Linked DNA regions of Homo sapiens. The protein of the gene in region 1 interacts with the protein of each later gene in a biochemical or structural test. Each region holds a gene or a part of one and is shown on either strand. Other genes may lie near its edges.

The links.
Region 2: of the proteins of EIF2AK2 (region 1) and PPP2R5A, one has a biochemical effect on the other in vitro, tested with the Homo sapiens proteins (one study listed by BioGRID).
Region 3: the proteins of EIF2AK2 (region 1) and DNAJC3 form a complex in vitro, tested with the Homo sapiens proteins (2 studies listed by BioGRID).

What each region holds. Positions count from the first base shown.
Region 1 is NC_000002.12:37,146,964-37,153,993, reverse strand, and holds part of EIF2AK2 (interferon-induced, double-stranded RNA-activated protein kinase), read left to right. Parts: intron 1-4,689; exon of another isoform or gene 4,690-4,970; 5' UTR 4,971-5,137; exon of another isoform or gene 5,138-5,500; intron 5,501-5,588; exon of another isoform or gene 5,589-5,622; intron 5,623-6,171; 5' UTR 6,172-6,187; coding exon 6,188-6,306; intron 6,307-7,020; coding exon 7,021-7,030.
Region 2 is NC_000001.11:212,288,380-212,295,409, forward strand, and holds part of PPP2R5A (serine/threonine-protein phosphatase 2A 56 kDa regulatory subunit alpha isoform), read left to right. Parts: intron 1-7,030. UniProt on the Homo sapiens protein: The B regulatory subunit might modulate substrate selectivity and catalytic activity, and might also direct the localization of the catalytic enzyme to a particular subcellular compartment.
Region 3 is NC_000013.11:95,785,109-95,792,138, forward strand, and holds part of DNAJC3 (dnaJ homolog subfamily C member 3 precursor), read left to right. Parts: intron 1-830; coding exon 831-963; intron 964-1,898; coding exon 1,899-2,047; intron 2,048-5,764; coding exon 5,765-5,922; 3' UTR 5,923-7,030. UniProt on the Homo sapiens protein: Involved in the unfolded protein response (UPR) during endoplasmic reticulum (ER) stress.

The DNA of each region.
Region 1 (7,030 bases):
ACAGATAATAACAAGTGATGGTGAGGATGTGGAGAAATTAGAACCCTCGTGCATTGCTGGTGGAAATGTAACATGGGTGTAACCACTGTGGAAAACAATTTGGTGATTCATCACAAAGTTAAACAGAATTATCATGTGATTCAATTCCACTTATATACCACAAATATTCAGAAGTAGGGACTTAAACAGATATATGTATACCAGTGTTCACAGCAGCATGATTCAAGATGGCCAAAAGGTTGAAATAACCAGTGTCCATTCATAAATGAATGCATGAACAAAATATGGTATATATACACAACGGAATATTATTCAGCCTTAAAAAGGAAAGGAATTCTGACATATGCTACAACATAGATGAACCTTGAAGACATTTTGCTAAGTGAAATAACCAGACACAAAAGGACAAATACTGTTTGATTCCACTTATATGAGGTACCTAGAACAGGCAAATTTACAGAGACAGAAGAGAGATTAGAAAATATAAAAAATTAACCAGGCATGCCCACGCCTATGGTCCCAGCTACTCGGGAGGCTGAGGTGGGAGGATCGCTTGAGCCCAGAGTTCAAGGCTGCAGTAAGCTGTGATCACACCACTGCACTCCAGCCTGGGCAACAGAGCGAGACCCTGTCTCAAAAAAAAAAAAAAAAAAAAAGATTAGCAGAGACTGAAAGGACTGGGAAATGGGGAGTTACTGTTTAATGGGTACACACTTTCTGTTTGGAAAGATTAAGAGTTGTGGATGTGGATGTGGTGGCGGCTACACAACATTGTGAATGTACTTAAAGGCAGGGAATTAATACATTGAAAAATAGTACATTTCATGTTATGTGTATTTTATCACAATTTTAAAACATAAAAAAAAAAATCACAATGGTTGCAGGGTAGAGAAGGAATTGAAGTAGCTGTCGGAACTGGTTCTGAGATTCTCACAGCAATCCAGGAATGAGGTGGTGTTGGCTTGAACTAGGATGGTAAGTGTAGACATCTTTGAGAAGTAGAAAGATTTTGGTGACAGGACTTAGTTATAGATTAGAAGGCAGGGAGAGGAAATGTCAAGGATGCCTCCCAGATTGATGGCTTTCAGACTTGGATAGATGGTGGACTCATTTCCTGTGAAAGGAAACTTCAAACCAGCTTGGGAGAAGATCATACATGCAGTACAGGATATTTTGAGTTTAAAGTTCGTTCAAGATGTTCAAGTGGAGAATTTGGATAGAGAGATCTGAAACTCAGAGCGGTTCATAAGGAATATGTAAACTTTAGAGGTAATGGCGTATAGATGATCACTGAAATCATGGACGTGAAAGAAATCACCTTAAGGAGAAAGTATAGAGTGAAGAGAAGAGGATTGTTGGGCCATGCCAGCATTTAGAGCTACAAAGATTAAGGTGTGTTAAAAAGAGTGGCCCGGCCAGGCGTGGTGGCCCACACCTGTAATCCCAGCACTTTGGGAGGCTGAGGCTGGTGGATCACTGGAGTTCAGGAGTTGGAGACCAGCCTGGCCAACACCGGGAAACCTCAAAAATACAAAAATTAGCTGGGCGTGGTGGTGGGCACCTGTAGTCCCATAGTCCCAGCTACTTGAGAGGCTGTGGCAGGAAAATTGCTTGAACCTGGGAGGCAGATGCTGCAGTGAGCTGAGATCATGTTACTGCACTCCAGCCTGGGCAACAGAGTGAGGCCCTGTCTCAAAAACAAAAAACAGAAAGAGTGGCCCTGGAAGAAAGAAGATCAAAAGAGCTTTCCAAGAAGAATTAAGAGGTTTACAGGATCTGATTTCTGCCTTTATGGATTTACCGATTCTGGAAGTTTCATATAAATGGGAATCATACAATATGTGTGAAATTTTATGTCTGGATTTTTCATTTTGCATAATGTTTTTGAGGTTTATCCATGTTTTTGTTGTTGTGGTTGTTGTTTTTTGAGATGGAGTCTTCGCTCTGTCGCGCAGGCTGGAGTGCAGTGGCGCGATCTCAGCTCACTGCAAGCTCCGCCTGCCGGGTTCACGCCATTCTCCTGCCTCAGCCTCGCGAGTAGCTGGGACTACAGGCGCGCGCCACCGCGCCCGGCTAATTTTTTGTATTTTTAGTGGAGACGAGGTTTCACCGTGGTCTCGATCTCCTGACCTCGTGATCCGCCCGCCTCGGCCTCCCAGAGTGTTGGGAGTACAGGCATGAGCCACGGCGCCTGGCCTATCCATGTTGTAGCATGTATCAGTACTTCATTTTTTTTGTGACTGAATAATATTCCGCTGTGTAGATATATTTCACATTTTGTTCACCATTTATCCGTTGATGGACACTTGGTTTGTTTCCACCTTTTGGCTATTGTTAACAGTGCTGCTATGTACATTCCTGTCTAAGTCTTTGTTTGGAAACCTGTTTTCCAATTCTTTGAAATATCTAGGAATGGAATTGCTGAGTTTTATGATAATTCAAAGTTTACCTTCTAGAGGAACCCCAGCAACCGTATTGTTTTACATTCTTATCAGCAGTGTTTGAGGGGTCCAGTTTCTCCATGTCCTCACCAACACTTATTTTTTATTATTTCCTGATTATTATTATTATTGCCATACTAGTGGGTGTGAAATTGTATTTAGTTGTGGTTTTGAATTCCATTTCTTTAATGACTCATGATGTTGAGTATCTTTTCATGTGCTTATTGGCGATTTACATATTTTCTTTGGAGAGATGTCTGTTCAAGCCCCTTTGCCTATTTTTTTAATTGGGTGGTTTGTCTTTTTGTTGTTGAGCTGTAAGAATTCTTTATATATCTGGTTACTAGACCCTCATCAGATATATGATTTGTAAATATTCTATTCTGTAGATTGTCATTTTATTTTCTTCATAGTGTCCTTTGATACACAAACGTTTTAAATTTTGATGAAGCCCAATTTATCTCTGTTTTCTTTTGTTGCTTGTGCTCTTGCTGTCATAGCTAAAATTTTATCACCAAATCCAAAGTCATGAAGATCTCCCCCATATTTTCTTCTAAGAGTTTTATAGTTTTCGCTTGTACATTTATATTTTATATCCTCTAAATTTTGTTTATAATTTAAATCATTGCTATAGACTTGGTCCAGTGAGACCTATAAACAGAGGTCTTAATTTACTCAGTGGTTAAATTGTCCTAAAATTGATTTCTGCAAAATTCAGAGGGGAGATTTTTGGGATTTCATAGAGAAATCTATATCCATACAGTTAAATCCTTCATGATTTCATACACTTCACTTTTTTAAAGTATTAAAACTTTTTTATTTGAAGAATACGTGGGGAGAAGAGAAATATATTTCAGCACTTAGATATGTAGATTATTTCCAAAATAGTTTACCACTCAACTAGTCACTTCTGTGTAAATCAGTTTTCCCTGAAGCAAGCATTGTGTTGTTCCCGGCTACAAGCGGTCCTCATTTTGCATGGTACTGTGGGACCATAAAAATGGCCATGCAAAGCAATCTTAATAATCAATGGGGAAAATGATGATTGTTCCATGACCTTTAAAATTCTGCTAAAATATTAAAACTCTTAAGGTCAGTTATAAATGTAGAAAAAAATGCAAAAAAAATTTAAAAATATTTAGTACACTGTAATTTAAAACATTAAAAATAGAATTAAAGTGTTTTATTTCATTGTGAAAACTAAGTAGTTTGAATAGGGATTGCCTTTTTTTTCTGCCAAGTGACTTATGATACTGAGTAAGCATCTTTTCTATTCATGGCAAACTGTCATACTCCTTTTAAGTTTGGGTGAGCTTCCAGCCTTTTATTGCTTGTGCTTTCAATGTTGTGAAGTATTTCTGTATTCACATTAAATGCTCTTTAGTGTGAAGTTTGTTTTTTTTTTTTTTTTACCGTCACTTCCTCTGGGACATATTTATCTTTATTGCAATCACTTTTCTTATTTGTGTTGATAAGTTTGCCTTCACTAAGCTCCTATGAATGCACAGCAGGAAGAACATTCCCATGATCAGTGACTTCTTCTACAAATCCATTTATGTTTGATTCAAATTTCACTTCCAGTGTTATCATTTTTCGTTGCTTTGTTGGACTTTCATCTTTGTTGGCCAGTTCTTTCGATTGTTCACTTCTATAAAATGTCAGGTGGAGGACAAAGAGACAGTGTAACTACGTGCTCTGCTGTGAGTGAACTGATTAACAGATGCACAGGGACCAACCACTGGAAGAATTTGAAACAAGTAACACGACTGGTCACTGATCATGAAGCATATCTGTTATTTACATCGTGATTTGTAGACTGAAGAACTAGCAGAGAAGTTTGTACTTCCTGTAATTACTCAGAGTTATACTGTGCTACCTAAAATTTTAACCTAGGTTTAAACAACACCAGTTTCCTTACCAGTTTCCTTTCCTTCCTGGTAAGGAAACTGGTATTTAAACTAAATCTAGGTCACTGAAATTTGTGCCATGGGAACCGTGCACATTGAGGACCTGCCTACACCCTACATGTTTATATTGGTCCAGGCAGGCTTAATGCTGACTACTGAGAAATAGGCTATCTGAATTTATATCAAATAGTGAATCTTAAAGCACCCAAGATGAAAAATTCGTGCACATTGAGGTGCTTTTAAAATCTTTGTCATTTGACAATCAAGCTTAAAATGTATCTTAGAGTAACCGAATTTTAGAAATAAAGACCTTTAAAGGCCCCATAGTTTGATACCACAGATTATCCAGCATGTTTATAATGAATTATTTCTCCTCCTTCAATTTCAGTTTGCTCATACTTTGTGACTTGCGGTCACAGTGGCATTCAGCTCCACACTTGGTAGAACCACAGGCACGACAAGCATAGAAACATCCTAAACAATCTTCATCGAGGCATCGAGGTCCATCCCAATAAAAATCAGGAGACCCTGGCTATCATAGACCTTAGTCTTCGCTGGTATCACTCGTCTGTCTGAACCAGCGGTTGCATTTTTTTAAGCCTTCTTTTTTCTCTTTTACCAGTTTCTGGAGCAAATTCAGTTTGCCTTCCTGGATTTGTAAATTGTAATGACCTCAAAACTTTAGCAGTTCTTCCATCTGACTCAGGTTTGCTTCTCTGGCGGTCTTCAGAATCAACATCCACACTTCCGTGATTATCTGCGTGCATTTTGGACAAAGCTTCCAACCAGGTACAAGCGGTCTTCCGAATTTTGCACTCAGAAAAGTGGCATCATCTAAGTCAATTACATGCAAATTCTGGGGGGCTAGTTTTTTGTGTATGTTAAATGGGTCACAACACGACTTCTGTAAATCCTCAAATCTGTCAATATAAATTTTTATGTGATGAAAGCAAATTGTATTGTTCCTAGAAAGTGTCCTTCCAGTTCTAAGTTGAAGTAAAAGCATGTCATTTGATGACAATTCTTGCAACATCTTAAAACCTGTGTGACAAGTATAGTAGGTTTTATGGCACTCATTTGTAGTACGAAGCTGGACTGCAACTATCGATCCATCATTGTTGATTCTAGCATATTTTCCTTGTTTTATTTTGTCTAGAGATCTAGGTCACGGGCTGATCACCCTTAGCTTGAGCTCTCCTCCGCCTGGCTTCCGGCAGGATCCACGTCCACACAGGCACACTTGCCTGCCCGTTCATTTCCCAGCCTGTCCCCATGCTACCACTCCACTTCACTTATTATATATACTCTAAATCTTTTTCTTCTCAACATAAAACATTCTACAATCCTGCAGCCTTTTTACTTTTTTAAGCAGGTAGGCAAACATGTAGTTGATACTCAGTGGAAGCACAGAGCAGAGTTAAAGAGAAGGACCCCCTTTCACTGACCAGTTGAGTTTTTTTTCTTTCCTTTATTTTTTAAAACAATTTCAAAATTGAGATGGGGTTTCGCCATGTTGCCCAGGCTGGTCTCGAACTCCTGAGCTCAGGTGATCCGCCCACCTTGGCTGGGATTATAGGCGTGAGCCACCACACCTGGCCAAGTTGAGTTTTTAAAGTAGAAAATTTTGGAGAAATTAACTTTATTGTGCAGTGAATGAGAAAGAAAGAACGGTTTTGAAAGAAAGTCTCTGCATTTATGTGAGACTGAGATGAGTCCTATAAAGGGGAGTCTCCCCAACCCCTCTGTCTCCTAAACTGCATTGGGAAACTCAGATTAAATATGTTCTGTGAGCATCACTCATTCAAATGTCTCTTCCATTGTAGGATACGGGAAGAAGAAATGGCTGGTGATCTTTCAGCAGGTTTCTTCATGGAGGAACTTAATACATACCGTCAGAAGCAGGGAGTAGTACTTAAATATCAAGAACTGCCTAATTCAGGACCTCCACATGATAGGAGGTAGGTTGCTATAAAAAATGATATGGCAGCCATAAAAAATGATGAGTTCATGTCCTTTGTAGGGACATGGATGAAGCTGGAAACCATTATTCTCAGCAAACTATCGCAAGGACAAAAAAACCAAACACCGCATGTTCTCACTCATAGGTGAGAACTGAGCAATGAGAACACATGGACACAGGAAGGGGAACATCACACACCAGGGACTGTTGTGGGGTGGGGGGAGGGGGGAGGGATAGCATTAGGAGATATACCTAATGCTAAATGACGAGTTAATGGGTGCAGCACACCAACATGGCACATGTATACATATGTAACCTGCACGTTGTGCACATGTACCCTAAAACTTAAAGTATAATAATAATAAAATTAAAAAAAAAAGAAAAAAGATATGACCTTATAAATGTAAGCTGGGGGAATGGCAACTCTGGCACAACTTTGAGGTCAACACTTTAGTTTTGTGAGAGTGCTCTTGGCATAAAGTGGGAACCATGGTGGAGCCACAGTTGACTCCAGAGAGAAAAGAGGGTAGAAACCTTTCCATGCTTCAACAAGACATGCTGCTTTACTGTTTGAGGTGACTGCTTAAATGCTATATTGAATGTAGGTTCAAACCCTCAAAGGTAGTCATAGGAGGTAGTGATGACTAGAGTACTTGTTTTTAGATAGTGCATGAGTTGTATAATATTTTATGAATATTCTCTTTGTAATCAGGTTTACATTT
Region 2 (7,030 bases), on another chromosome or scaffold:
GTAGGGTTCAACAAGTTGAAGGTGCCATATAGTATTTGGTCACTAGTAAAGAAGAAAGTAAATTGGAACTTTACATTAATTGTAGATATTTGCATGAAAATACAGTATTCATCATAAGGAAAATTATGTATTCAGGATAAATTTATGCAAATTTAATTGAGGAAATAAGACCCTTACTTGGATTACAAACTAATAGGAACAACTTCTTTTACTCCAGATGCCAAAATGCTTGCAAGTGATTTAAAAAAAAAACACCAACATTCAATTGCTTCAATTGGAACTTTGGCAGTGTACTTGATACCACAGTGTTGTGTTTTTTCTGCCAGTGGTAGTTTTTTCCATTTGTGGCCTTCACAAAAACATGGAAAGCCCTTTAGTATGTGTATGAAAGAAAGAATTTTCTTCCTCCTCTGAAATACCATCTTACTGTGGAGTGATTCAGATATCCATGGACTCCAAGATCTTTTAAGTTTCATACCAGCCTGCTTATGTTACTTTGACCACATGCATCTGAACTGGAAAGGTGCCAACTAGTTTTCCTCAAACCATAGTAAGGATTAACAAAATAATCCAGCCTTTTCACCTGTAAGAAGTATTTGTGCAAAATAATTTAGTAAGTGGGTTGTGGGATTTTAATGGCAAAAATGTTCAGAATAAATTGTTTTATAATTGAAAGTATTTAATAAACAACAAGCCTTGTTAAAAGGCTTTTCAGTCTAACCTATTTTGTTTAAGATTCTGGAAGGCTTGGTTTGGTAAAGTAGTTGATGCCTTACATTTATATAACATTTTAGCATTTTAAAATTATTTTACCTTAAAAATTTTCTTAAATTATAAAACAGTATTGTTCATACCAAGTGAAACAATCCAAAGATATGTAACCCTTAATCCCTGTGTATCTCCTGCTTTTTCACACCTAGTAAGTAAGGGTAATACTGTTGTTTGATAATCCATGGCTCATTGTATTTTTACAAACATCCTATTCATTGGGTCATCCCTGAACTTTTTGCAAGGTCAGTATTCCCATTTTATTGATGAGAAAGTTGAGGCCTAAAAAGAATAGTTTCTGGCCTGTGATTACTTATCTGGATGATGTTGCAGCTGACACTGGGACCTAGGTCAAATGATTTCAGTATTTGTGCTGTTAACTGTTTTATGTAAATTTGAAGCAGTGTGATAGAGTTGGGTCTCTGGGGTTAGTCCTGGGTCAAAGGTAAATTTTTAATCTTTCTAAGTCGTTTTCCTTATCTGTAAAATGGGGATAATACAAATCTCCCCAGGCCTGTGGGGATTAAGGGGAATAATTTAAGTGCCTAAAAATAGGCAAAGAATGTTAGTTCCCATTCTCTTAAATATTTGAAAATCCAGATTAAAAATATTTTTAAATGAAGGATTATTAATAGGATTACTTACTTAAATGGTAAACTTTCCTAGTGTATTTAAAGTGATTTTATTTATAATCAGTTTTCAGATATGATTTATGTGATCTGAAGTGCAGCTGCAACATCTTTCAGCACGAGTGTAGAAATGGAAATAGGATTAAGTCAGACTCTTTAAAACATTAAAAGCTGTGATAAGATTTTTTTACCAAGCGAAGAAATCAACCTAACCAGTAGAATTATATAGATGTGCAGTCATCTTAGGAGACAGCCGGGAAATAAATAGCAAGATAGGCTGAAACTGGCTTTGAGATTGAAGTCCCCTTCAGAAGAGGTAAAACTTTCCCAAGTAGCACTCAAGATTCTTTGTTGGTCCATTCTTAGCAACTGTGTCCCACTAGAGGTATTGAGGCCAGTAATAGTGGTGTTGATTGCAGTGCTTCCTTACCTTTAGGGGGAAAAATGTGTGTGTTTTCTAAAGTAGGTGATCTAAGGTAATTGTGGAACAAGAACACTGACATTATCTTAAGTTCTATAGCTAAACCTTTTTGTGGAGAGAAAACCGTACTACTCACTCAACTTTTAAGGTTTATAGATCTTCTCAAAGTTACTATCATTCCATCTAAACACAGTTGGGATGGCACTAGAGGAGAGTTCAAATTCATCTGAAGATGTTAAGAAAATTGTTTACAAAAGGAAATAACATTTTAGTCATTTTAGGACTATTTTCTGAGATATCTCTTCTGGAAGATTTATTTTTAAAAAATTTAAAACATTTTTAGGATATTCTTAAGAGAAATTGCTAAATAAAGTGTTCACTGCTAGTCCTCACATAAAGGAAAAACTTTTCTATTTAAACCCATTTTAACATCTTTAGAATTCCTGTTTAGGATCATCTCTTCCTCCTCTCCATTTTATTACCTTATCTGATTGTTAATTGTGGATTATTTTATGAAGTGTCTAACTGAATAAAGTGCTAATCCAATAAAATGTATTTGGTAAAATAATGCAACCATTGTAGTATGTTACTGTCATGTAAACAGTAGATTTAAATTGTCTTCCTGCATCAGTGATGACTCATTCCTTTCAACTTCAGTTTAGCCATTTTCACCTGCAAGAATAACATTTTTCTCTTGATAAAATAACAAAGATGAATTAGTCTTTAAGGAGTTATTGCTGCCTTGGATTTCAAAGACAGGTTTACTAACAGAAATAACACATTTAGATTTTTGTGTTTCATTTTTAAAAGTTAGATTTTTGTAAAAAGCTGGGGATAAAGACTAGTTTGTTTTTATGTGTTTAGCACTGTGGTTCCCAATCCTGGCTATACTTGGAGAGGTCATTTATTTTATTTTATTTTATTTTTTTTCAGACTGAGTCTCGCTGTGTCCCCAGGCTAGAGTGCAGTGGCACGATCTCTCGGCTCACTGCCACCTCTGCCTCCCAGGTTCAAGCGATTCTCTTGCATGCACCACCATGCCAAGCTAATTTTTGTATTTTTAGGAGAGATAGGGGTTTTGCCATGGCTGGTCAGGCTGGTTTTGAACTCCTGACCCCAGGTGTTCTGCCTGCCTTGGCCTCCCAAAGTTATGGGATTACAGGCGTGAGCCACTGCACCCGGCCTATACCTGGAGAGTTTAAAACAAAACAAAACAAAACAAAAAATCAATACCTGGGCACATCCCTAAGAGATTGTAAATTAATTGGCCTAAGGTAAAATCCACTTACAGTATTTTTAAAAGCTCCCAGGGTGATTCTAACGCGCAGCCAGGATTGAGAATCACCGGGTTAGCATTGTCTGTCTATTGATTTAATTCATTAATTGAGACTTCGTCCTTTTCTCTCTGATACTCATGGTTCATTACCCAGCCTATTAACATTTCCTGCCCTGGCTTCACCTCCTGCTATTTACATTTCACTCTCTTAACTTTGCTGCCCCCTATAGCTTATTAGCTGCTTTCCTGAAGGGGAGATACTGCCATTAGATTCTGGAGTTTAGGTATGATGGGATGATTCTACTGGTTTATTGTCATTACCATAATTAAAGCCCAACTATTATTTGATGTAGGGTGGTCAGTTTTCTTTTCTCTGTGATTTTTGGAGCTGGCAGGTAAAATCGAGAACATGTGATAGAGGTTTGCCTAATTTTAATCCCATCATTCAGGATAATAAGTAATGATTTCAACCACTTTGGGATGTAAAACTAGTTTCCTCTGTATGCTCACAACACTGTTCTGTTTCTTGAAGATCTAGGCCTGATACTACCATTGTATATGTTAAATACAAGATATTGAACAAAGGAACTATTCTTGAACTTTACTGCGTTTTTGGTCATGCCTTATTTTTATTTCACATTAAGAAATGTTTTTCTCCAGAGTGTTTTCGTGTCTATCATCTAACTTAATCTTGACCACAACTTTTTATCGAAGGCAGGGCAGTGAGAACTCAGGGCTGCTTATATTCCATATTCCTATTTTGTCTTTGTCTTTTCTGGTAACTGGTTTGAATAATACTTCTGTTAGTTGATTTGTTGTTTGGGTGGCTTTTCAGTTGTTATGTTGTGATGCTCTCTCTCCAGAATGAGATGGTGAATTTTTCTGTGAAAGCAGAGTCATTATCTGTTTTTTCAAATCCTGTTATGGTACCAAATACAGTATTTTGTGCATAATGTGGTCATAGAGACAGAGTCAGTGTTTTGATGAAGAAATTATATGTTGGTTGTCTTATAGTCACTCCTTCCCCTTTAGATTGTGCTGCTTTTAGTGATGTTTGGTGCTATCTACCAGATGTTGATTCTTTTCTGTTTTGTTTTTTGGTTTTCCATATTTTTTTGAGACAGGGTCTTGCTCTATCACCCAGGCTGGAGTGTAGTGGCACAATTGTAACTTACTGCAGCCTCAAACTTCTGGGCTCAGGCAATTGTCCCAAGTAGCTAGGACTACAGGTGTGTGCTGCCACACCCAGCTAAGTTTTTTATTTTTATTCTTGTACAGACAAGTTCTCGCTATGTTGTCCTGGCTGGTCTTGAACTCCTGGCCTCATGTGATCCTCCGTCTTTGGCTTCCCAAAAGCTGGGATTACAGATGTGAATCACTGCCTCACCCAGTTTTTTGGTTTTAATATATTTATGCCTAAAACTGGTTCAGGATTATTTAAAACAGGGGAATCCAAGGGAGAGAATACAATCATGGGTTCTTAGTTTCTGTTTTTGGTTGTGCCAGTAAAGCCCCTTCCTCGTCCTTCTTTTCTGCTTATCACTAGAGACAGAAACTAAAAACCATGGCTTCAGGATGCTAAAAGCCTAAAACAAAACGAAACAGAACAACAACAACAAAATAAGGTGGGTTGGACAAGCTTGATTTAAAGTAAATGAATTCTGGGTCCTTAATATCTTGGTAGTAAATAGTAAATGTAGGTTTAAAACAAAAGATTATTTGTATTTTGCCAATGACCAGTATGAGTGACATGTAACATTATTGATTGATTTGTTGCTATGAAAGTTATTGTATAAGATTTGTGAGGAAAAGTAATACTGGGTTGACTCCTAGACATGGACATGTGTGTATAAAATAACTGAAACAATTTGTTTGCAGTAATTTCTAAGTTTAAGATGCAATCTTTCTTTATAAGGATGTCCTTGAAGGAGGTAAAAGGAACAGATTTGAAATATATAATACTTTTAGTGTATTATTATGTAACAAGGAATCTAAATGCTTTGCTGAAAGAGTTTTGTATGACAGACTGGGATTATGCAAAATAAACTCTACTTCTCTGAGCAGGATGTTGACTAATAAGCAGTTTCAAGCCTAGTTTTTATATCTGTCTTTTTGAACTGTTACCTGAAGGATTTTATTTATGTGGGACTTTTAAGTAAGTAATGAAGAATTTTAGAAATCCTGTAATTTTGATTGGGTTTGCTGAAGAAACATACTGGAATTTTTTTTTTTTTGGTGGGGGTAGTCTAACTTGGATACTGAAGACAAGGGATTTCTTGGAAACACACTCCTCCTACTGGAATGGTGATGCTAATTGCCGCTACTATATAACCTTACTGTGATGTTATATCTAGTTGAGCTTTCCAGTGCTGAATGGGATCTCAGAAGTCATTCTGGTTTAGCCTCTGTTGGGAATTGATTTCACTCTTGTTATTCTAATAAATATCTTGCCATTTCATCAGAGAAGTTTTCTTTAAGGTAGGGAGGAAAGTACAGGGTTTTAAAACCCTTATTCTCTCAGGTTTTGCTTAGTTAATGAATAAACCATTTAGATAATAGCTAAAAGAGGTTGAATACCTGAAACAAGAATTTTTAAATGGCTTAGAACTTGCAGTTCAGTAGTATCAAATCTAAAATTGTATATTTTTTTTCAGCAGAACGCAGATTTTAAAAAATTGTATATTTTGTCTAATTGGTTTTGCCTTTGTTTCACATTGTATCAAGGATATTCCATAATTACAGCTATTACCATAAGTCAATGGTTATTTGAACTCATTGTTAATCCCCTGCCTCTAAATTGATAAAAGTGAAAAAGGGAAAAAGGTGAGACAGTTTTTGTTATAACTCCTGAATTTTAATTAGCAAAACTGGGTAGATTTTTAAAACAACTTTTCAGACAGGCTTTTCTGAAGAAAAATATCTATTGAAGTTAAAAGTAAAATAAGACATAACTTCTGTAGGAATGTTTCTAATTTTATTAAAACAAACAAAAACAACAACAAAAACGTGCCCTACCATTCTTCTTTAAATTGGTCAGTGGCAAAATATTTTGTTTGCTGTGAAATTAGACACACACTTTATTTTCAAAAATCTAGTACAGAAATCTTTTCCTTTCTTTGGTTTTCCATAGTGCATAAAATTTTGGTGAACCGCTGCAGAGATTAAAACTTAGTAAAGTGAAAACAATGAATGCTTTTTCTTTTAAATTTAATGTCTTTAGGAGTTTATAGTTGGTGAATACAGACTTGTAAGCAGGCAGTTGCAATTAATGTGTTCAGTGTCATGATAAGAATAAGCTCTAAAATGTTAAGGGAGTATGTGAAGGACTCAATCCCGTTTTAGTAGGGGAGGGGAGTGATCAGGGAAAGTTTCCTGGAGAAAGTGACAGGTAAACTGCCATCTAAAAGGCCAGAAGGTGTTAGGCCAAGATAGATGGGCTAAGAGGTCCACCCAAAAGACAATATATGGAGACCCAAAGGTAATTGAGCATAGCATATTTTGGGAATTACCAGCAGTTTACATAGCTGTGATCTAGAATATAGGTTACATTCTATATCTCTGTGGTATATTCTGTATCACTAGAGAAGTGGAACAGCATTTAGGGTCTAGTGCGTAATCTTGTTGCTATGTTGAAGAATGGATGTAGGCAATTTATTGCATTCATACCTGCCAGTAACATGAAGAACGTATTGGGAAATCAGAGTGAGTAACACTAGTGAGGATACTGACACAGTAATCCAGACAAGAGATAAAGGTGCTTGTCCAAGTGGGGATGGGGTGGTATCATAGGCAAAATCTGGTGAGAGGGAACAATCAACGATGATACATTTCTAACTTGGGCAACTGGATGTATGATAGCAGTTTATTGAAAGGGAAAAAAGACATTAGATTTGGGAGGAGAAGATAATGGTTCTTTGTTGGACAGGTCGAAGTGTC
Region 3 (7,030 bases), on another chromosome or scaffold:
CAGTTCCTTCTGTTCCCTTTCTTTCTACAAATTTTTTTTTTCTAGCTTCCCATTGGCCAAACCCACCTCCTGATCCCTTTCTAAATGTCTAATTCTTCTGGACTGTTGTCAATCCATAGCTGACCAGGCCGATTTTCTTTATCACTGTCTTTCTTTCCTGTGTAACAACCACTTAGTCTTAATGGTGGTAAGATTGCTCTGGATAAAGTGCTGATATTAACATATTTACCCAGAGGGTATGGGGAGATAATGCGGGAGGGTGGGCAAGTAAACAGCAGTACATTTTGTTGAATGAGAATAATAAACTACCTAAACTCAGTTTTCATTATTATGCCTTTTAAACCTTTTTTTTTTTTTTTTTTTTTTTTGAGACGGAATCTCACTCTGTCACCCAGGCTGGAGTGCAGTGGTGCGATGTCGGCCACTGCAAACCTCCGCCTCCCAAGTTCAAGCGGTTTTCCTGCCTCAGCCTCCCGAGTAGCTGGGACTACAGGCGTGCACCACCATGCCCGGCTAATTTTTGTGTTTTTTTTTTTAGTAGAGACGGGGTTTCATTGTGTTGGCCAGGCTGGTTTTGAACTCCTGACCCTCATGATCCGCCCACCTCGACCTCCCAAAGTGATGGGATCACAGGCATGAGCCCCTGTGCCCGGCCTCTTAAATATTCTTGATCAAAGTTACTAACGGGGTATCACTTAAGGTTTTTGGCAATAATGGCCAAAGAGTGAAGGGGTTGGGGGATGACGACTTTAGCATCAATTTTACAGGATAAGAAAAGGCAATAAATTATAATTTGCCTTAACAATATTATCTTAAACATATTTTGACAGCTATTCAGGATTATGAAACTGCTCAGGAACACAATGAAAATGATCAGCAGATTCGAGAAGGTCTAGAGAAAGCACAAAGATTATTGAAACAGTCGCAGAAACGAGATTATTATAAAATCTTGGGAGTAAAAAGGTGAATTATTAATTTAAAATTTACTTTGCTATTTTTAATCAACTCTGTTTCAAAGCTAATCATTGCTCTTTTTCCTCTCTGATTCATTTTCTTTACTTATGTAATTTCAGTCATATGGATTAAACCTTAACAGTCTTTAACATTAGAAAGCTACTTTGAGTATTTTATAGGCAAGTTTCTTTGATAGAGACCAATAATGCAACAACAGAATTAGTAGTTGGCAACAAAGATGACACTGTAGCATGAATGGGTCCTAAGCCTAGATTTTTTAAGAAGGGTAAAGGGGTAGGAGTGAGATTCCTTTTGGTGGGGATGGAGGAGGAGACGGAATGAGTAAAGAAAAAGCCTTCTCTAGGCCTAAAAATAAAGTAGTGCTTTCAGAATTAAGTCTGAAATTAAGATCTACCTTATATAAAAGTACATACTAAGTAAATGATACACCTCCCAGTGCCTGTGGGTGAATTCTGAAATTAAGTAAATGATATACCTCCCAGTGGTTCGCTGAGTAAACCATCAATTTTTCAAAATTTGGAATCTTTGTGCTTACTATTAAGTAAGCTAATGCAGAAGCATAATTGAAAGTGGCATTCAGAGTCAAATATTTTTTAATACCAAGAATTGAATTATGGTAACTTGGAAATTCAGAAAGTTAAAAAATTCATTGATGTACCTTTTTTAAAAAAGGGAAAGTTCTAAAGATCAGGAGTGCTTTATTCTCAGTAATCTTAGTGAGCGAGTATCCAAGGAAGCCTGATGTCAGCTTTAATGATCATCCAGAACTGTGTATGCAGATCTTTGGCCTGTGATACCATTGGAACTATTTTATAAAACCAGTTTTGTTAATTGCCAGTAGGATCTTAATCAGCTCTTCTGATTTTTATGATAGTATGTTAGACACTTTTCCACTAATGATTATTTATTTTACCACCCCTCAGAAATGCCAAAAAGCAAGAAATTATTAAAGCATACCGAAAATTAGCACTGCAGTGGCACCCAGATAACTTCCAGAATGAAGAAGAAAAGAAAAAAGCTGAGAAAAAGTTCATTGATATAGCAGCTGCTAAAGAAGTCCTCTCTGATCCAGGTATTATTAGCTTTTATTCCTTTGACTCATCCTAGAGGTGGTGTTAGAAGCGAGGGTGGAACATGTGGTGGGTTCTCCACGTGGGGCTGTATAGGCAGTGACGGGTCCTGAGCCCAGTTCCAGAGGTCCAGTTTTATGCCTGCCCTCATTCAGCCCTCTTATGTTGGGCACCCTCCTGTTGCAGGGTACAGTGGAAAGACTATCAAATGTGGAATCAGAGGGCCTGAATTTGAATCTTTTTTCTACTCAAAGAAGTTATCAGAACTTTTTGGTCTCAGTTTTTTCAACACTGAGCATAAGAGGATCTCTCAGGTTCCCTCTAACCTCAAAGGTCAATGATGAATTTTCTCCACCAAGCTTACAGGAGCTTGATGAGGAAACCAGCTTGCCAGGCTGGATTACATGGAGTGGGAGAAGAACAGCTGTCTGGCCTAGGGCCTGCTTTGCCCCATATGTGTTCACCAGGAATCTTGCCCTGAATCATAGGATCATTAGATTCACAGGCTTATATGTGTTTTTTTTTTTTTTAATTTTTATTTTTTGTAGAAATGGGATCTCACTGTGTTGCCCAGGCTGGTCTTTAACTCCTGGGCTAAAGTGATCTTCCCAAAGTTCTGAGATTACAGGTGTGAGCCTCTGCACCTGGCCACATGTGTTCTTTTGCCATACAGTAATATGGCCTGGAAATTTCGTTAAGAGGGAGACAGGCTAAGCATTGAGGTAATACTGAACAATGCTTTGCTGCTGCCAGAGAATTTCATGTTAAGCTTATACTGCTTTTTTGTGGCCTTCCATGTCAGTGGGAACAGCAGCTGTGATCTGAGCTAAACAAACAAAAGAGAGGAAAGTTTTATGTTTGTCAAATCTTTTTTGAGTACTTACTTATGCAGTGGAATTGAAAGTAAATGATCCTTTGTTTTCAAGTAATTTATAATCCAGTAAAGGAGACAGAAATGTACTTGCAGTGGAATTGAAAGTAAATGATCCTTCGTTTTCAAGTAATTTATAATCCAGTAAAGGAGACAGAAATGTACTTCCCTTATCAAGTAGTGTTGGATACATACTGTCCTGTTACTTAGCAAATACTGAGTGGCTACAACCTGCCTTAAGCAGTTCAATCCTCTTAGTTTGTGCAGTGCACAGGTGTGATAGTGTATCAGACTGGGAGTCAGGATCTTCTTATGTGAGAGGGACTTTGTGCTACGTTTTAAGGTACCAGGGAGCCAACCAAGGGGATGGGTGTCCCTGCACAGAGGCATGCACTGAGGAAAGAGCTGCAGGTCCTTTTTCTTACCTCCTGTTCTTCTGTTCAGGATGAACTATCTTTTCTTTTAAAGACTTTAAAGTTTTTTACTATGCATATATCAAGACGTGTCATATTTAGGAATATGTTTAGTAGAATCACATGATGTATGCCAATCTGAAACTTAATTTTCACTTGAAATAAATCTTGGCTATAGTTTTTTCTCATTGAAAAATGGTTACCTCATTCTTTGAGATGTATGCAGACCACTCCACTGAATTTTTAAGTAATTACATAATGTGAATATAGCTGAATTCACTTCCCCTTCCATTCACAGCATCCTTTCTCTGGGGCCATTATCACCCCCACCCCTACGGAGAGTTCACTACTGTTCTAAGTGCTAACACCCTAGATTAATTTTGCCTGTGAGATATCAAAGATATGGGGCCTGAGTCTAACTGCATTAGCTTTTATAAAACAAAGCTGAGTTTCAGATCACCTACAATACCCGCTTAGTTATTAACACTCAGCATAAGAACCCTCAGTTTTACTGGTGGGTTTCCTCCTCCTAAATATGTGGCTTCAGATTAACCTCCCAGAATGAAGTAAACTGGCTTTTCTCTAAGTATCTTTGAACCCCTAAAGGACAAGTTACTGTGAGAGAGCAAAGCGAGACTTGGGATTATTTTTATATTTGCATTTTTTTCTGCATTCTCTATTTTCCATTTATTAAAAAACCTAGCTATATGCTAAGTCTTTTTATTTTTTTTTTGTAAGTTCAGGGGTACATGTGCAGGTTTGTTACATAGGTAAATGTGTGTTATGGGGGTTTGTTGTACAGATTATTTCATCACCCAGGTATTAAGTCTAGAACCCATTAGTTATTATTCCTGATCCTCTCCCTCCTCCCACCCTTCACCCTCCAATAGGCCCCAGTGTGTGTTGTTCCCCTTTATGCATCCATGAGTTCTCATCATTTAGCTCCCACTTGTGAGAATATGTGGTATTTGGTTTTCTGTTCCTGCATTAGTTTGCTAAGGATAGTGGCCTCCAGCTCCATCCATGCCCCTGCAAGAGGACATGATCTCATTCTTTTTTATGGCTGCATAGTATTCCATGGTGTAGATGTACCACATTTTCTTTATCCAGTCTATCATTGATGGGCATTTAGGTTGATTCCATGTCTTTTCTATTGTGAATAGAGCTGCAATAAACTGATATGTGCATGTGTCTTTATAATGGAACAATTTATATTCTTTTGGGTGTATACCCAGTAATGAGATTGCTGAGTTGAATGGTATTTCTTTCTTTAAGGAATTGCCACACTGTCTTCCACAATGGCTGAATGAATTTACACTGCCACCAATAGTGTATAAGCGTTCCTTTTTCACCACAACCTTGGCAGCATCTATTTTTTTTACTTTTTAATAATAGCCATTTTTTATTTGCAATAATGATCTAATTATTTGCTCTAGTGATCAGTGATGTTGAGCTTTTTTTCATATGATTGTTGGCCGCATATATGTCTTCTTTTGAGAAGTGTCTGTTCATGTCCTTTGCCCACTTTTTAATGGGGTTGTTTTCTTGTACATTTAAGTTCTTTGTAGACCTTTGTCAGTTGCATAGTTTGCAAAAATTTTCTCCCATTCTGTAGGTTGTCTGTTTACTCTGTTGATAGTTTCTTTTGCTGTGTAGAAGCTCTTTAGTTTAATTAGATCTCATTTGTCAATTTTTGCTTTTGTTGCAATTTCATGATGGAAACACCAAAAGCAATCTTTGCTCATACCTATGTCCTGAATAGTATTTGCCTAGGTTGTCTTCCAGGGTTTTTCTAATGACTCTGAGGACATGAGCTCTTTCTTCCTATCCCTGCAATATTCCTCTTTATTGCCTTCTCCCATGTCTCTGCATTGATCTCTCTCTGTTCGGGGCTCAGAGGCCCCGCTGTGGGGGCACCAATTGCATGGGAGGGAAAGGTGAACCTCCTGGAGTTGTATGTTATGGAGGCCCCGCTCCCCTCATGTCTGAGGAGCCTTAGTGCTAGAATGCTCATTAGATGCTTGATGAGGTCATTGCCTTACAGACTTTATTTTGGGGATTAGGGTGGTGAGCTGGCTGTTTCATTAGAATTGTAGACTCTTGGAAGTTTCTCTTGAATTATTTTTTTCCAAATAATTTCATTGGGTAGTTATCAAGCTTGGGTGGCTTCTTCTGGAGTGAGATTTAGGGGCCTGAATCTCAATAAATACCTATTATCAACCCTGAACCTCACCCTCCTTGTGGCAAATTTCTCTAGTCTGTTTCTTCAGGGTGGGAATGGGAGAGCCTGGATTTGAATGTCAGGCACAACTCTTGATAACCGAAAAGTAAGTAGCTCCTCAAGCCCACCCACCCTCCTCTGCCCAAAGAAAACATTCCCCCTGCCCCTATACCTTAGATATTATCTGGTTCTTAATTTTCTGATTTCTTTCTAGAAATGAGAAAGAAGTTTGACGACGGAGAAGATCCTTTGGATGCAGAGAGCCAGCAAGGAGGCGGCGGCAACCCTTTCCACAGAAGCTGGAACTCATGGCAAGGGTTCAATCCCTTCAGCTCAGGCGGACCATTTAGATTTAAATTCCACTTCAATTAAACCAACTGTTTTTCTGCTCTTCTTAATTTTTTTAAAGATTAAAAACAAAGAAATCTTGTTCCGGGACCCTAATGAAAAAAAATTTCAAATCTTTTCAGTTTGTCCATGACCAAAGAGTTGCTTTAATAGGAAAAAATCTGTTCTTATCCCTGTCAGATTTATGGTTAATGGGTTTGCAACGGCAAGGAGGCAAGGAATGGTTCTATTTCTGACAGAGCAGCCTGCATCTGCTTTATGCTGTCTGGAGGGAAGTGGTCTGAGGCAGGCTCACCCGTGGAAGTGCTCACGTATTCTGTATTATTTTTCTACACTGGAGCTGAGATTCTTCTCTTCACAGCCTTGCAGAGTAAGTCAGTGCCTACAAGTGTAAGAAGGAGCTGTAATCTTCATGAGGATGGTTATACTTCAGTATTCTTAAAGAGAACATGAACATTTTTGAGCTGTATGTTCTTAGGGACAACTGTGCTTCGATGTGGTCAGTCTCGTCACTTGTGAGTAGCTGTGAAATCTTTAGTGTGCATGTGTTTGCACCTCTGTGGTCTGTCAACGTGGCTGTCACTGAAGGAGCAAGAGACCATCTTTTAGGAACCCTGCCACCAAATAATAATATATCCAGGCTTAGACTTTGGATTAATGTTAAATGTACATTTTTTTGGTTCAGTACCTGAAGAAGAATACTGAAACTTGAATCTATAAATTCCTATGGACCCTTTTAATATTAAACACAACAAATTAAAAGTTGTTATAGGTAAAATAAGTTCAGATAAAATAGTGGTGGTATTTAAAATAATATTGCTGAAGTGCAGATTGAAATACTTTTTAAACAACTGAAGTTCTGAGTTTTTATAGGGAATTTCATGTAACAAGACTGGTTTAGAAACGTAAAGTTGCGCAGTCAACATAAATAAATACAGAATGCCATGTTCTCCACTTCTAAGTAAAGACAGTGGGCAGCTTCTGTTTCTCCTTCTATCAAGGCTTCACCCTATCTTAAAGGTCTGTGGTGCCTCCCACGTGGGACCTGTCTGCTGGTATGTGTTAAACAGCAGACCGGCCCTTCTACCAGATCTTGATGCCTCTGATTTTCTCCTGCCTACAAGAAAATACA